Homo sapiens: one gene and its partner. The protein of the gene in region 1 purifies or fractionates together with the protein of each later gene. This does not show direct contact. Each region holds a gene or a part of one and is shown on either strand. Other genes may lie near its edges. The genes, in order: TSPYL5 and ZFP91.

Region 1 (4,548 bases):
AGAAGCAAAGAGAGCAAAGGACTGCTGAAAGTGGGAAAGCTGGGGATTGAGGTCCAGATGGCCAGAGGCTACCACAAAGGAGGAAACAGCAGGAGGCACTTGGGTCTTAGGAAGCATTAAAACAAAGTCAAAACAAGAGTAAACACTAGTCTATGACATGGCTGCCTTGGGGTTTATAACTCAAGCAGATGCTAGGCATGAAAAGGATTTTCAACTTCAGAACTGTAGAGCAAGCGCAGGAGACAGGTTCAGGGTTTGCCAGCAGATCCACTTGGCCTTCTGGTTTCCTCAACTCTCTTTCAACCTAGTATGTGTGCGCAGTGCCAAGTTCTCAGCTACCTCCCCAGCTGTATGTAGAAAAATGTGGTTTTTCAGTTGTTTTCTCTGTGGTACTATTTAAACAAAATAAAAAAGAATAAGGAAAGAAGGAAGGGGAAGGCAGAAGGGGAGGAAAGGAGGCTACCAGGAAAGGGAGGGAGGAAAGAAGAATGAGAGGGAGGAAATGAGGGATGAAGGCAGGCAAGCAAAATAAGAAGTATAAGTGACCTGAAGTCAAGCAAGCAGAGGCCCACAAATCAGAAATACCTCTTCCCAGAACCCCTACTATGGCACTCTGCTCACATCTTAGACGGGAATAAGGGAAGTTGACAATGGTATCTGGATTCTATATAGGCCCAGTCCTCACCCTCACCTGGAGCCACAGCATAATGACAGTGAACACATGTCCACACATACCAGCCCGCCCATCAGTCTGGCAGCCAGTAGGGTTCCTGGAAAGCTGGGGAGGGTAGGTGTGTGTCTCATGCACTGGTAGGGGGCCTCGGTCCACAGGCAGTTCTTGAGGTCCTTGTTGACCAGGAAGCCAACTGGGGCTGACAGCAACCCAGACAAAACTTAATGGCTTGATAGTGACACGGCATGGCGCAGATCTTGATGAAAGTTCACCAGTAGAAGGGCCCAGAAGCAAGAAGAGACACATGATGGTACAGAACACATGGCATACTGTTTCTTGCCCTTAACTTCATGCATGCCCAGCAGTCAAGTGCCATTCTGCAGAACATCAAGCAGGATGGGTATCACAGACCACAGGCCAAAGCCAGAAATAAAGCAGGTGACATCTCAGCTGGTGACCCCAGACCCACAGAACAGGAAGTTCTGGCTGATGACTAATACCATGTGCACTGGCTTCATTCTGCAGTGGCAATGGAAACGCTTGCATAGATGACATGCATGGCCAGCATGAACACGAAGCCCAGCAAGTCACTGGCCCTGAAGGAGCAGAGCTTGAGGATGCACTGGTCGTCCTGGAGGATGACTCATGAGTGTCCATGTTAAAGACAAGTAGGAAAGGCCAGAGCCAAGAACAAGGTCCAGGCAATGTAGATAACAGGGAGCACACATCTAAAGTATGTGTGCTTAACATATGAACAGTCCGGGTGCGATCACATAACATGTGACACTAACGTAGAAAAGCAAGAGGCTATGGGAGGCAAAAGAACATGATCATAAATGCCATATTCTTGTAACTAAAGTCCAAAGGGTCTATAGTACACAGAGGCCAACATGAAGAGAAGGCAGAGAGCCAAATATGTAGTCAACCAGGAGCAGCCCAGCAGGAGGTAGCAGGGAGACTTGTGCAGGATCAGTTGGATTGGCTCACCCCAGGCTGAGTAGTCTCCATTGGCTGCTTTCCTGGACCTTGCCTGCCTTCTTTTTCCTTTCCTTTCTCTACACGAGCCCCTTCACTCAAAAGGTAGAACTGCAAGGGATTGGGCCACAATTCTTCGTTGATTATCTCCACAATCTTGTCAGACTCAATGGAGCTGTGGTTTGAAAACCACCCAAAGAAACTACGGTTGTTTTCTGGGTTTCCCTGGCTTAGGGACTGGAGATCATGCCCTGGGAGCCACTGGATTGGAGTAGAACGAGACACCACCTGGCCAGAAGGACCACACCCATATTCCTTGATGAGCACCTTATTTTGGAAATACGGGTTGCGATCGAAGTAGAACTTGATTTTGTAGCCCAATCTGGCAAGGCCGAGCTCTTCCACTTCCAAGCTGTTTAAGTAGCTCAGTACCTCTTTCTCTTGGCTATTCAGAAAGGATGCTAGCTGGGGATGGTTCTGAAATGCTTGCCCCCAGAAGCCCGGGATATTTTGGATGAGGTGGTTCCTGCGCTCCAAGTGCTGCAGTCGCAACTGCCCAAACTTCCTGGAGAGCCGAAGGTAGGCCCTGTCCGCCTGGGCGTTCATGTTCTCCAGCTTCAGCTGCACGTTCTCCAGCGTATCCATGCTGCCTTCCGTCGCTGGGGGCCCCGACCCTGCATCCCTCTCTTCCTTCTTTTCCTCCCCAGCTGACACCGAGGTATTCTCCCCTGCCGCCCCTTTCTTCTGCCTCCCACCAGCTATGACCTGAGGCCCCCTCCCCGCGGTGCTACAGGTTTCTGGGGCCTTCTTCCCGGCAGGGCCACGCCGGTTTCCAACGCGGGGGGCATTTTTCGGCCTTCCCACGGTTCCCGCTGTTCCCACGAAGACAGTGTCTGCGGCCAGGCGCTCCGAGAGAGATGCGGCCTTCCCCGGGCCGGGCCTGGCCGCGGCCTGCCCGTGGTCCCCCGCAGCTCGGGCCCGCAGCGCGAGGCCACAGTCCAGGGGGAGCCGGCAGGCGGCCTCCTCCCCGAGCCGGAGGAGCTGCGCGGACGCAGCGGCTTCCAGGCCACCCCACCCCGCGCCAGCCTGCACCTGTGCCGCCTGGGTGTCTTCCCCGAGACTCTGGTACTGTGAAGGGTCCGGGTCGCGCGGGGCGTCGTCCGGAGCAGGGCGGACTCGGGCTTTGGCGCGGCCTTTGCCCCGGTTTTTGGCGCGGGAGGACTTTCGACCCCGACTTCGGCCGCTCATGGTGGCGGCGGAGGCAGCTTCAAAGACACGCTGTGACCCTGCGGCTCCTGACGCCAGCTCTCGGTCGGGACCGAGCGGGTCTCTCCACGGCAACCGCCGACGTCACGAACGTACAACTGTACCGTCGCGAGAGGACGTGATGCGCCCGGTGATTGGCGCCGCCGCTGCGGCTGCGCAGGAGACGACCCCCGCGGGCGCTCCCACCCCCATCTCGCGCGGACTCGCTTTAGGTCTCGGCGAGTTTCTCTGATATGCGCTCGCGGGGGTGCTGCCATTTCATCTCTTCCGCGCGGGCTCATCGTGCTCTCAGGGTCTCGTTGAACAAGGCAACGCTAAGAGCCATCACCACCTGTCCCCCATCACCTGTTTTCTAAACTAAACATCTTCAGCTCCTCCAGTTATCTCTTGTGGCATCTGTCATGAAGAAAGTGCTCGGGCGTGTGTGTCTCTCTTTGAACACCTTTGCTGAGGGATTTGCTCTGGTACCTTAACTCCAGAGAACGTAAAGGTGGATGCTATAATGCCGGGCGTCAAAGCGATTTGGTACGCAGTAAGATGATAGTAGAAATTATAAAAATAATGGCAACTAGTATTTTGTATCATTTGTGCCAGGCACTTTACTAGGTGCTTTAAATGCATTATCTCAATTTACAAAGGAGGTGTTGATATCATTCCCATTTTCGAGATAAGAAAACTGCATCTCAGAGACACCCGGGCACATTCCCCAGGTTACACAGTAAGGGATGGAAGCACAATTCAAACTCAAGCCCATGGGACTCCGTATCCTATGCCTTATATTTGGAAATGGCAAGTCCTTCCAGACTTGTTCCACTGTCAATTACTGGGCTGGCTCTTAAGAAATCAGCCTTGCTCCTTAACAAACAGGCTTCCGTGGACCACCTGACCACCTCTTCTGCCTGGGAACATCACCCGAGTCCCCCAGCTGCCTCAGTTTACAGATCTGGACTATCACTCTAGGTATAGGACCAGAAGTGAAGACCTGTATTAGAGCTCCTGTAATTGGAGTAAGACAAGAATGTGGTGAGAGGTGAAATTATTATTCAGGGAGCAGATTGAGGTTCAGAAGCAGAGCCTCCACGTGGCACTGCAGAAGCCCTAGAAACTTCTTACACTGTGCATGGAAACAGCCGGACAACCTCCCCCACAGTCCCGGAGGCAGCCCTGGACCACGCTCTTACTAGTGAGGTAATAGGACCATGAACAGTGAGGGGACCTGTGGCTAATGTAAAAATATAAAGAAAAACCTTTTGAGGTGGTCTTTTCAGGCTCAAAGGGAACAAAAAGGCCCTTGTAACCAGCTAGTGGAGAGATAAGCCCAAAAGCCCCGGGACCTCATTACTCAAAGTGTGGTTGTGGACCAGCAGCCTGATATCACCTGAAAGCTTGTTAAAGATGCAGAATCTCAGGCCTTTCCCCAGACCTACTAAGTCAGAATTTGAATTTTAACAAGATCCTGGGTGATTTGTATACACCCCTAAGTTTAAGGAAACAATTTAAAGAGGAATTATTTTTATACAGATGGCCCTATTTTAAGCCGGCCTAATACAAGTGATTCCTCATTTTCTCAAAAGCTCTAGAATAGCCTGCAAGGCCCTGTATGATCTGGCAAGTCTTCTATCTGCCACTACATG
Region 2 (3,814 bases), on another chromosome or scaffold:
GAGCGGCTATTGTTATAACTGAACCACGATCCAGAAGAAGGCCTTCGTGTCATGTTATATTTGTTGCTGAAGATCAAACAGGTATTTCCTAAGCAGTATTTCACTTTCACGTTTCCTGCCAGACCTAAATATAAGTGGTACGTTTACTCATCAAAAATAATAATAATAATCTACTCAAGAAAAATAAAAACAAAACCTCAACTAAAAGTCTTTTATTCATTCTACACAGTACCCAAGAAATCACAGGTTTGAGTTCTAATTTTACTTTTTTTCTAAATCACTTTAAAATAAAATGTTACTCTGTATTTACACCACATTGGGAATTACTGTAATATTGAAAGATTCCAACGAAAGTTCTCTATGTGGGTTCAGATTCTTAGTCACCTCTTTTTAAACAGGAGGTGCTATGAATTTGGATGTGTTCACCACAGTTCATGTGTTGGAAACTTAATCCCCAATGTGATAGTGTTGGAAGGCGGGACCTAATGGGAGGTGCTTAGGTCTTAAAGGCTCTACCCTTATATAAATGGGTTGATATTATCATTGGAGTAGATTTGTTACAAAAGCAAGTTCAACCCATTCTTGCCCTTCCACCATGGGCTGACACAGTTAAAAGGCTCTTGTGAGATGTGGGCACCATGCTTTTGGACTTTCCAGTCTCCAGAACCACAAGCTAATAAATAAATATATGTTCTTTGTAAATTACCCAGTCTCAGGTACTCTATTATAGCAGCACAAATGGACTAATCATGATTAACCCATTTATGCTGGAGGTTGCAAATGTATTTTTGTGAAAAATCAGACCTTGGTGATGACCTTGAACAGTAGGATATAAATAACTTGCCCAAGCTTAGCATTCTAATAATGGAACACTAGGCATAAATGGGTTAAAGTCATTTTATGTTTAAAGAAAGACTTTTCTTGACATTACATGTCAATGATAAAGCCTACACAAGCCAACAAATTAAAGTCTCGTGGTGCAAGAACAAGTAATGGAACACAACCTGAAAGGCTCTTATATAACAACTTCACTGACCTGCAAATAGCGAGGATGGGCAAGGACAGTTCCACATCCTTCCATCTCACAACGGACATACTGGATTGGAGGCTTTTTTCTATTATCAAAATGCAGAAGAAAAGTTAGCAAAAAAAAAAAAGTGGTACTCTGCACAGTGGCCTCTGACTTAAACTGTGCTATTGGGAATAGCTATTTTATAGTAGGAAGAATTAAAATCTCTTTACTACTATACAGATTACACAGAATTTGTATTAGAAGTAACCAAGAATTAGCAAATATTTGACAGAATTAAAAAGTAACACAAATAAACTAATGACCCCCCAAAGGTAAAGTATTAAGATTGTTAGAAATTTCAAGCTCTTACAATGAAAATAAGATCATAACACCTGTGCATCTAGGACATTAGTGAAGTTGCTTTTGTGAAATTTTTAAATAGCCATTCCTGCAGGATTATCATGAAGTCTAAATTTGTGAGTAAAGTGCCTGGTACTGGAATAAGGTGTAAAACAGTAGGGGTAAAAATTCCTCACCTCCTTTTGGGTAAACGTGGACTTTTGTCATCTTTTCGTCTTCTTCCTCTCCTGTAATTGAAGACAGGGTAACAGTAGACATATTCTGAATCAAAACTACACAGTGAAGGCTGGCTGAAGACACACACACACACACACGGCCAAAGAACAAGTGGCAAAGGATAACCAAGAATACATAAAGTCAAAGATATATCTGGCAAATCAAGCAAGTAATTTTACCCTGAAGTAATTTCACTTTCAAATCAGTCTGTAAGACAGATTAAATATATACCTTCCATAAACTATGCAATACTATGAAAGACTTAGAAGAATCTCAATGTATTACTTTTAGAGTTGCTACCATGTATCATCTAAAAACACTAAGATTAAAAAATACCTTCTCCTTGCAATAGAACTGAAAAACCTAAACATTTTTTTACTAAGAGTCTCTCCAGTGAAATTGTCAGCTGCTTGAGGCCAAATTTTTTTAAGTTAAAAAATACATATTTTGAAGCATGTATACGTCAACATCCTTCCTCACACTCCCACTCTTTTTTCCACTAGTCGTTCAAAATCTGTTAGATTTTCATTTTTAATAATTGCCTACTCACTTCCTTGGAGGTTCCTCATCCTCTCTAATTTCATTCTCCTCTTCTTTCACCTCCACCTCTACTTCCACTTTAATTTCCTTCTTCTCCTTCTCTTCTTTTACCTTCCCTGATTTTCTCCGTGGCTTTGGGGTTTCCCTGAAAACACAAATGCATTTCAATACTAGACAAAAGATCTTTTCAAGGAAGACTATGACAACAAATTAAAGCTTAGAGTTATCACTGATTTGTTATAAAACTACCTTCCTCAGTTCATGAAATGTGATTTCCTACCAATCATCCTCACATGCATAGTAATGATCCAAATATATGTATATGTTGCTCATGGAATGAACCCTCCCCAGACTAAAGATGCCTGTAAATCAAATTTCACTATAATTGTAAAGAGAAACGAGACAATTAGTTAAAAAATTCTAAGTATTCAGGCAATTCATGATACCTTGTTGAAATAAAACATGCAGACTCATAAAAACTTGTATATAATCAAAATAAAGTTCTACAAATGGGAAAGAGGATTATTATCAGGGTATATTAAGGTGTTAGACTTACAAAAGAAGTGCATAATTAATTACTCATTTAAAATTAATTCTATACCCATTAGCTTGGCAACAGATAAAATAAAAGCATGCAACAGTGCTTTCCTACTTATATTTCATTAACATGTCTGCAGTAAAATCTGAGACATGCCTTTCTAAGTGGGGTTTGTAGGTCTCATCTCTTGGATCATCTTTGAATGGTATCTCCTCTTCACTGATTAACATCTCTTCTTCCTCCTCCTCTTCCTCTTCACTACTAAAAATAAGTAAATAGAAATGAGACATTCTGGTTGTAGCGAACATGTCTGAGGGGATTTTATTTGGTAATTTTTTAAGAGGTAGCCAAACACTGATAAAGTCATCTAGCATTTTCATCCTAATGACCTAATTGGACTGAAATCTAGCTGTTTTATCACAAAGAATAATAATTGAAACTAAAAAGACATAAATCCTAGATAAAGACAGGGTGATGACAACTCAATGGCATTAAAAGTTAAGAAACAACTGACTTTGTAATACTGTCTGGTGATCTGCTATATTAAAAGACCTACTAACAGATAAATCACAACACAAAAGATTCCAATAAAATCTCAAAACCTTGGCCAAAACACCCATATTTCACATTAGTGCCTACCATGGAATAAGTCCAAACACAGAAGATACTCAAGACATGATTTCTAAGCTATGTAAGTAGATTACATGGTTTAAGTTCTAATCAAGCTCAACATGGAATCTAAATGCAGTATCAAAACTGAAGTTAATTTCTCTTACAGCTCAAAATAATTTCAAATGGAAGCAACTTCTGAATCATTTACTGTGACTATGCTATGTCCCCAAAGGTTTAAAAATGAAATATTAATGTTTTTTTTACCTAATGCCACCTGGAGACTGATGCTCTTCTCCAACATCTAGAAAAACAAAGCCAAAAACAAAATTTTATTAGTGTAGATATAAGATATTTTCTCTCTGCAGTCAAGAAATGCAAATCAAATTACTGCATGGGGTAATTATACAAAAGCAGAATATCTGCAAACTGTTCAAAGAAATACCACCTACACCATCAAACCTGCCCCTGACAGTTAAGCTGTTAACACAAATGTTCAACATTACATTTAAAATGTAACAGCAACTAGTTAGTAAACA

Evidence for each region.
Region 2: the proteins of TSPYL5 (region 1) and ZFP91 purify together in Homo sapiens (affinity purification with mass spectrometry; one large-scale study listed by BioGRID and IntAct). This does not show direct contact.

What each region holds. Positions count from the first base shown.
Region 1 is NC_000008.11:97,274,949-97,279,496, forward strand, and holds the start of TSPYL5 (testis-specific Y-encoded-like protein 5), read right to left. Parts: upstream 2,981-4,548; 5' UTR 2,897-2,980; coding exon 1,643-2,896; 3' UTR 1-1,642. UniProt on the Homo sapiens protein: Involved in modulation of cell growth and cellular response to gamma radiation probably via regulation of the Akt signaling pathway. Involved in regulation of p53/TP53.
Region 2 is NC_000011.10:58,610,063-58,613,876, reverse strand, and holds part of ZFP91 (E3 ubiquitin-protein ligase ZFP91), read right to left. Parts: intron 3,580-3,814; coding exon 3,543-3,579; intron 2,928-3,542; coding exon 2,823-2,927; intron 2,274-2,822; coding exon 2,139-2,273; intron 1,600-2,138; coding exon 1,549-1,599; intron 1,116-1,548; coding exon 1,037-1,115; intron 1-1,036. UniProt on the Homo sapiens protein: Atypical E3 ubiquitin-protein ligase that mediates 'Lys-63'-linked ubiquitination of MAP3K14/NIK, leading to stabilize and activate MAP3K14/NIK. It thereby acts as an activator of the non-canonical NF-kappa-B2/NFKB2 pathway.